Linked DNA regions of Homo sapiens: region 1 is linked to region 2. Evidence: fine-mapped expression QTL. A gene starts in region 2. The other region holds a variant in brackets. All regions are shown on one strand. Distances are from middle to middle.

Evidence for each region. PIP is the estimated chance that this variant, and not a neighbour inherited with it, causes the effect.
Region 1: its variant is fine-mapped to the expression of LINC02289 in whole blood (INTERVAL, PIP 0.92).

What each region holds. Positions count from the first base shown.
Region 1 is chr14:77,132,850-77,137,235 of GRCh38, reverse strand. It overlaps ZDHHC22 (zDHHC palmitoyltransferase 22), which reads left to right. Exons shown (of 3, transcript NM_174976.2): 3 at 3,288-4,386. The coding sequence ends at 3,553. Among named protein-coding and RNA genes, the nearest start is that of ZDHHC22, 6.7 kb to the left of the region's middle. RefSeq lists an enhancer at 2,949-3,448. The variant A/CA (reference allele first, on the strand shown) is at 2,046.
Region 2 is chr14:77,074,232-77,078,617 of GRCh38, reverse strand. It overlaps LINC02289 (long intergenic non-protein coding RNA 2289), which reads left to right and starts at 2,427. Exons shown (of 3, transcript NR_110553.1): 1 at 2,427-2,513. RefSeq lists a silencer at 2,278-2,572.

The sequences.
Region 1 (4,386 bases), 59 kb before region 2:
TCTTACCTCCAACTCTCCTATCTCATCTTTTGTGACCTTTCATCTTTCCTCTTGAGGACCTTCCTTTCTTTCCCTCCCATGACATACACCCCACCTGTTTGGCTTTCCCTTTCCCATTCCTCTTGTTCCCCAACCCTCAATCCGAACAGTTGGTAGCACCCTCTCTCATCTGCACAGGAGGACAGGTGGACAGAAAAGAGTAAGAAGCATGGGTTGTTTAATAGAAATTGAGTTCAAGATCAGCCTGGGCAAGATGGTGAGACTCCGTTGCTACAAAAATAAAAAATAAATAAATACACTAGCCAGGCATAGTGGCATGTGCCTGTTTTCCCAGCTACTCAGGAGGCTGAGGTGAGAGAATTGCTTGAGCCCAAGAGTTTGAGGCTGCAGTGAGCTATGATCATGCCACTGCACTCTATCCAGCCTGGGCTACAGAGCAAGACCCTGTCTCAAGAAAAAAAGAAAGAAAGAAATTGAGCTGTCCCCAACTGTGGTACAGATCTGAGTCAGATCTGTCACCAGAGCATGGATGGCTGTGAGTTTGGGCCTTGAGAGCTAAAAGTGGGAGGGGTCTTCTAGTGTGAAGGTGGCGGCCAACCACAGGCCCTCAGCTGATCCAGAGAGGGAGGCGGCTAGCTAGTTAGGTTTCAGAAGTTACCCTTTCTTTTGGCTTTGTGGGACCAGTACAGGTTGCTGTGTCACCTCTCTGAACCTTATTCTTATCTGGGAAATGGAGATGCCACCATCTGACCTGTATCTTGGCATTTGGGTAAGTACACCAGCATGATGGGTGCTACCAGAAAGTCCAGTAAGAGGGAAAGGGGACTAATGTTCATTGAGCACCTATTATGTACCACCCACTATGCATGTCACATTTCACCCATTCCTCTTGACAAGTCCATATTATCATGTCCATTTTTAAGGCTCAGAAACCAAAGACTCAGCAAGGTTAAGTTGCACCAACACCACACAGCTGGTACGATTCCAAACCAAGATTTGGAGTTGGGGCTTCTAGCCTCCAAAGCTCATACTCTTTCCACCCACCATACTGCCTCTTGGGGGCTGCCTCTCTGAAGCTGCTTCTCGAATGAGCCACTTTGGAAGGGAGGCAGCTACTTGTCCTTGGATGTATTAAAAAGTATGCTGGGTGATTATTTGTCAAAGGTGTTATAGATGCCTGTTGGGAGGAAGGGGCAGGGGAGATTGACTGATGTGTCCTTTTAGGCTCATTAGGAAAATTCTGTGATTTTTAAAAAGAGGCAGAACTATTATTAAATAGTTAAGAGGAGCTGAAGCAGCCAGGCTAGGTAACTTCAAACACTTTTAGAGAAAGCAGGTCCCCAGAATAGCCTTTTGTAGCTGCTGCATGGGGCCAAGAAAAGGCCGCAAGTTCTTTTTCTCATGCCTTGATTTAGTGCCAGGAAAAAACCCTGTGGGAAATGGCTTCCATCCACCCAGGCTTGTTCCTGGGGCAGTGTTGCAAGGCAGGCCCAAGCTTGACAGCTCTGATGTTCTCACATCCCAGCTTGAGGGCCACCTTTGCCTGTCAGCATTCCTCACGCCAAAGAGCACCATGGACCTGGGATCCTCCATCCCCCACATGGCTGCCCAAGCTAATCTGTGCCGACATGGAAGAAGTGGGTCAGGGGATGGCACAGCCCAATGTGAGCCCTGTCCCACTGCTGCCCCTGTGCCAGTGGAGGGGCTGCTGTAAATGGCAGCTGGGCCTATCTGTCCCCAGCTTTGTAAAAAAAAAAAAAAATAATACAGCTATCCAAGCTCCTAGGGATGAGGACAAGAGGAGGCTGCTAATGAGAGAATCTAAATCAGATCCACATCCTCCATGGCTGCTGAGTCCACCACTGCTCATACTGGACAAGTGTTGAAAGCCCAGTTGACAGGGCTTTGGAAATTGGAGGTTGGAGAGACTTGGGAAGAGGTGGGCTGGGGCAAGAGAAGGCTAGGGAAAGGGCAAAATATGGTTGAGATTTTCAAGGGCAGAATAGGTTGTAAGGTGGAGTCCTTAGAGGAGGTGCCCCCCCCCC[A/CA]CCAGAGGAGGTGATAGGGTTGCCCTACAGGGAACCAAAGGCTAAGGAATACTTTCGAATTAACTCCAGGGTCCAGTGCCCTGGCTGCTGGGTAGGTCAAGGTAAGTGTCTTTGCCACAGCTGCCAAAGTTGCAGCCCAGCCAGGACTCTAAGCCCTGAAAAGGAGAAGGAAAAAGCTTGATAGTTTCAGGAGTTGAACTCATTTTGGATGTAGTCTCCTGCTCTGTAAAATGACCCTCTGCTGGGAGCACCGCTCTGAGTGTGAACCGGAATGCTGACCACTCTGTACATCATTTTCTTGAAACATGCAGCTGTATGAAATCGTTAGTGTTATTATACCCATTGTACAGATGAACGAGCTGCAACTGAGAGGTTGGGACACTTGTGCCAGTCCACACAGCTGGGAGATTCAAACCTAGCATGGACCAGCCACCCAAACTCTGAGGAAGAGTGTGGGAGCTCTTACTCAGTGGTTATTTCAAACCAGTAATAGGAAGTGCTTGGTTTAGAGGGATTCTGGGGAGATCCTGCCCCACGACACAGGGCTGATGACCTTGGGGGCCTCTTCTAGCAAGCTTTGATTGACAGAACCAGCTCTGGTGGAATGCGGTGGTGGCCACACTGTCCTCTTGTTAACATTAATGACTGAATTATTCTCTACGTTGGTGTTCTGGGCTGCTCTTCAGACTAAGCTCGTGACTTATTCTTCCCAGATCTCCATCATGCTGTCATTTTCCTGAGTCCTCTCAACCAGCGTTCCCAGAACAGTAGGGAGAAGGTGCTGTGGACTAGACAGCTGCCCAGGCACCTGCTCCCTCTTTAGGGTCCCCAGCTCACCCCTCTCTCCTCCTGAGCAAAACCCCTTCACCCTGCTTCTAGCCCAAAAGGAGAAAGCAGAGAGAGACAGGCATCTCCTACTCTACAGAAATGTTATCAGCGGCCAGGTGCTGCCCCAGGAGCTGAGGGCTGTCCTTGCTAAGCTCATCAAACTTAGCTCTCTTCTCTGCCATGTCTCCAGTCTTCCCCTCTTGCCTCAGGTGCCATCCGCGCCAAGAAAAAGTTAGGGCAGCTGGTTCTTCCTTCCTCTCCCTCACTGCAGCTGCAGCGCTGAGGTTGCTACAAAATGTAGCGTCAATCTCATTAATCTCCCTCCCTCCCGGTGGAAAGCCTGCCTAGATCGCAGTTATGCCGGTGGCCTGGGTGTAAAGCGGCTCTGGTGTTTCCCCTCCCCGTGCCCTGCAGGAGCTGTCCTGGGTTCTGAAATGTTCGTCATCCTCATGCTCTACCTCTGGTTCGCCATCGGCCTGGCCTGCGCCGGCTTCTGCTGCCACCAGCTGCTGTTGATCCTCCGCGGGCAGACCCGCCACCAGGTGCGGAAGGGGGTGGCAGTGAGGGCCCGGCCCTGGCGCAAGAACTTACAAGAGGTCTTCGGAAAGAGGTGGCTGCTGGGCCTGCTGGTCCCCATGTTCAATGTCGGAAGTGAGAGCTCCAAGCAGCAGGATAAGTAGTAGACACTCCCGTCATTTATCTCTCTGTCTCTGTCTTGACTCCTCCTGAGCATAAAACCATGGCAGCCTTGTCTCCACCCATGACTCACTACAACCTTGTGCTGGTAAGGTCCTAGCATCTTCCCCTCACCTTCCACCCATGAGAACAGCGTGAGCTGGTGGATCATGACAAGGAGGAAAAATGTCCCCCCAGGCATTTCTAGGCTCCTCACGAGCCAGCCAGGTGGCTGCTAGCTGTTAGGCTGCCTCTGCTTTCTTTCCGTCCCCTTGGGATCCCTGCTTTCCCCCTCTTCCTGGCTCATCCATTCTCCACCGTGTCTCATTCATCACTGCTGTCTGCTAGAGCCCTTCCTCTCAGCCCCCATGTTGGGAGAGGGGAGTGGATTCTTGCTGCTGGTATGAGACTCCCTGGGACCTAGAGGCTGGCAAATGTTTAAAATCACCACGTGTAAGAGGCAGCCAAGTCAGCTCTGCCAACTGCTAGGGGAGTTGGGAAAGAGTGGGTGTGTGTCCGCATCCCCTCTGTAGGAAAAAGAACTTAGTAGCTTGCTGCTCCCTCACCACCCCCCACCAGGTTCAAGACCCTTTTTCTGGGAGACAGCAATCAATGGCCTGCTTTTTCCAAATGTTATTCCCTGTCCACCCTGCCCCATCTGGCCGGCCCAGCCCAGTCCAGGACCTGGCTGGATGCTTCCTGTCCCTGGAACTCTTCCAGCCTTTCTACTTGATCTCCAGCCCCCAGGTCTTTGCCAGATGATGGGAAGGCAAGGAAGAAGGGACAGGGAAAGATAATTACTGATAAATGAAGGGGATATTCGACTGTATAACCATAT
Region 2 (4,386 bases):
TCTCCTTAGCTGTCTGGTCACTGAATGGGGACTGCTACTTGGCCGTGATTCTCAACCAGGGGTAATTTTGCCCCCAAGGGACAGTTTTGTCATGGAGTTGGGGGAGGCGCTACTGGCATCTTGTGGATAGAGGCCAGGGATATTCCAAAACATCCTACAATGTACAGGGCAGCCCCGACAACGAAGAATAATCCAGCCCAAACTGTCATTAGTGCTCTGTAGATGGTTTTGGCTGCTATAACAAAATACCTTAGACTGGGTAATTTATAAACAATGGAAATTTATCATTCACAGTTCTGGAGACTGGAAAGTCCAAGGTCAAGGCGCCAGCAGATTCAGTGTCTTGTGAGGGCTCATTCCTCATACATGGTGCCTCCTCTGTGTCCTTGCATGGCAGAAGGGGTCAACAAGCTCCTTCAGGCCTCTTTTATAAAAGTCTTAATCCCATTCATGAGGGGAGAGCCCTCAGGACCTAATCATGTGGCAGGCAGATTGTCTGAGGTCAGGAGTTCGAGACCAGCCTGGCCAACGTGGAGAAACTCTGTCTCTACTAAAAAAAAAAAAAAAAAATAGCCTGCTGTGGTAGTGCACACCTGTAGTCCCGACTACTCGGGAGGCTGAGGCAGGAGAATTGCTTGAACCTGGGAGGTGGAAGTTGCAATAAGCCGAGATCACACCATTGCACTCCAGCCTGGATGACAGAGCAAGGCTCTGTCTCAAAAAACAAATAAATAGGCCGGGCGCGGTGGCTCACGCCTGTAATCCCAGCACTCTGGGAGGCCGAGGTGGGTGGATCAAGATGTCAGGAGATGGAGACTATCCTGGCTAACACGGTGAAACCCCGCCTCTACTAAAAATACAAAAAATTAGCCAGGCGCCGTGGCAGGCACCTGTAGTCCCAGCTACTCGGGAGGCTGGGCAGGAGAATGGCGTGAACCCTGGAAGCGGAACTTGCAGTGAGCCGAGATCTTGCCACTGCACTCTGTCTGCCTGGGCGACAGAGCGAAACTCTGTCTCAAAACAAAAAAAAACAAAAACAAAATAAATAAACAAACAAATAAATAAATAAATAAAGAGTGTTAGGAGCCTTCTCTCCTGTAAGCTGTGAACAACTAAGCTTGTTTAGGTCCTGAAATGTCACTGTCATTGTCAGCATGATAAATGCTTTGTGCTGTAATAATACAGAGAAACAGGATGTCTATTCCCCAAAGCCTCTGTGATGGAGAAGGTGGGCTTTCCAGAGGCTCTGACTGTGGAATGTGTCTAGAATCCTCTGCATGTTTTCCAGGTTCACCTCCACACCCTCATCTCTGCTCAGCCGGGTCCTTGCTAGGAGCAGGAACCTGCCTGGTGGGTCTCTGATGGCAGCCCCATGCTCTGCAGACCCCGGACTCTCCGCAGCCCCAGCTCCTGCCTTGTCCTGTTGTCTTCCACCAAGGGGCACCCTTCTTTAAAAAGCTGGACTCTTTTTTTTTTTTTTTTTTTTTTGAGATAGGTTCTTGCTCTATCACCCAGGCTGGAGTGCAATAGTGCAATCACAGCTCACTGCTGCCTCCACTGCCTGGGCTTAAGTAATCCTCCTGCCTCAGTCTCCTGAGTAGCAGGGACCACAGACACACACCAACACTCCAAGCTAATTTTTAAAAATTATTTGTAGGGATGAGGTCTCGCTATGTTGCCCAGGCTGGTCTCAAGCTCCTGGCCTCAAGGGATCCTCCTGCCTTAGCCTCCCAAAGTGCTGGGATTACAGGAGTGAGCCACTATGCCCGGCCCAAGACTGACTCTTAAAAAAGGACAGAGCTAGTCCCAAGCTTGTGCAAGGACAGTGAGAGAGGGGAGACTCAGAAGTAGCCAATTTTTCCCCCAGTAATTAATAAGACATTTAAAGGACTTATCAGGTCACCACAGCTCCATCATCCCTGGGGAATTGTTTGGTTTAGCAGAACTGTTCCCACCCTGCCCCCCTTTGCTTTCTTCTTTCCTTGCCCAGACCCCTCCCCCAACTTAGTTGACGTTGCACAAAGCTTTCAAAAAAACAAGTTTTGTTCCCAGGTCAGCTATATCCTCCCAGGAAGTTTCCCCATCCCAGGGTGAAGTCAGGCCAACACAGGGTGAAGAGTTAGGAGGTCAGGGGCGGGGGAGGGGCGGGTGTTTTGCACGGGACAAGGAGTTCTTTTTTGTTGTTGTTATTCTTTGCGTCATTTCCAGAGAGACAGGAAGGAAAACATAGTAAACATTCTTCAATTCTGCACAAAAGCCGAGAAGGGATTTTCTTCAGGAACCTCCTTGTGGCTCTGCCATGGCGGGGAGGGTTGGGGGTAAGAAATATAAGACCCAATTCCCTGTGGAGGCGGGGATTCGGTGAAACCAATCCCTTGAATGTGGGGTGGAACCAACATGTAACTCAATTTGCTTTGGCTCTCACTGTGCATTTGAGCTAAAGCAAGGGAAGCATTTCCCCTTCCCCTGGCTGAAAGCTCAGCTGACCCCGAGGCTCTTCTGGTCATGCTTAGGTATGTACATTTTATGTCACGAAATCCAGTATCGACTTAGAGATTTAAAGCAGCCACCCAAAGATATTAAATGACTCTTGCATTTTTCTTCAAAGAGAAATCTTCTTCCTCCTGCCCTAGTTAAGGCCTTAGTTGGGGGCTGCCAGCTGCCAGGGACTGGGCATGGTGGCTTTTGTCTATTCTCTCCCGAATACCCCTCTCCCCACTTGCTGGTTGCTTTCAGAGTCTAAGTGGAGGTGGTGGGTGAGGATGCAGGGAAGCGGATGGGGAGCAGGGGAATAGGGCAGTTTTTACTTGACTGTATGATTGCCAGCTCTCTGGGTGTGGCAGATGGTGAAAGCTCTTTCTGGAGGGTTCCCTGTGTTCTTCAGAAGTTCCCATCTCAGCCAGGCTTGGTGGCTCACGCCTATAATCCCAGCACTTTGGAAGGCGGAGGCGGGCAGATCACTGGAGCCCAGGAGTACTAGACCAGCCCGAGCAACATGGCTAAACCTCATCTCTACCAAAAATACAAAAAGTATCTGGGGGTGGTGCTGCACGCCTGTAGTCCCAGCTACTTGGGAGGCTGAGGCAGGAGGATTGCTTGAACCCAGGAGGTAGAGGTTGCTGTGAGCCGAGTTTGGGCCACTGGACTCCAGCTTGGGCAACAGAGTGAGACCCTGTCTTAAAAAAAAAAAAAAAAAAAGTTCCCATCTCTAAGGTTTTCTCCTGAAGTTCCCTGTTCTGCACCTCCATTTCAGGTACAGCTATGACTCCATCTTCAACCCCTAGAAATCCAGCATCCTCTTCCAACTTCTTTCTGCTGACATCCCTTTGCCCTTCTCAGAGGCCCTACAGGACTTAAAATGACCCCCACCTTGGCCCTCTCTCCTGCCATGGTCCATCTGATCCACATGTGGCCCATGGGAAGAACTCACACAGCCCCTTCACTCATCCTAATGCAGTCCCTCCTGGCACAGTCCCATGGGGGCCCACAGCTCCAAGTGGCTGCATGGAAGCCCCCATCACTAGGCTTGAGTTGAAAGCAGTAGGGCCCCTAACTCCTTGGTGGGGTAGCTTACAGCATGGCTTTGCCCTTTCTGGAAGTTTCTATTTCCAAACTCTCCCCATTCTCCACACTCTATATTGTTGGTAGGCTGAGGGCCCTGAGTGCTATGCAACTGGTTCCCCATTATTTCCTTTGTAAATACTACATATGGGAGTCTGTCTCATGTTCAGTTTGCTATCTGATGATATTGTGGTAGCCTGCTTCCACAATGGCCCCTCATTGTCCCCATCTCCTGGTATTCACATCATTGTGTCTCCTCCCTCCGTGAACAGGGCCGACCCTTGTAGCCACTTGCTATTGCAGAGCTGATGGCATGCATCTTCTGAGGCTAGGTCATTGTTGTGTGTTTAATGATGTCCCCCAGAAGATATGTTGCAGCCCTAACCCCCAGGGCCTATAAATGTGACCTTTTCTGGAAATAGTCTTCGCAGTTGTAATCAAGGGTTGTTCTTGACTAGAGTGGGCCCTACATCCAATGACTGGTGTTCTCATAAGGAGAGAGAGACAAAGAGTAGACAGACACAAGGGAGAAGGCCGTGTGAAGATGGAGACAGAGATTGGAATGATACAGCCACAAGCCAAGAAACATCTGCGGCCGTCAGAAGTTGGAAGAGGCAAGGAATGATTTATTCTTTCCCACTCATTGTTTCACCAATGAGCACCTTCCATGTGCCACCGTTCTGACCCTGCTGACAATGTGGTTTCAGACTTCTGGCCCCCAGAACTGTGAAAGAGTAAATTTCTGTTAAGTTATCTTGCTTGTGGTACTTTGTTACAGCAGCCCTGTGGATCTAATATAGTCATAAGAGACATTGTGACCTCCTC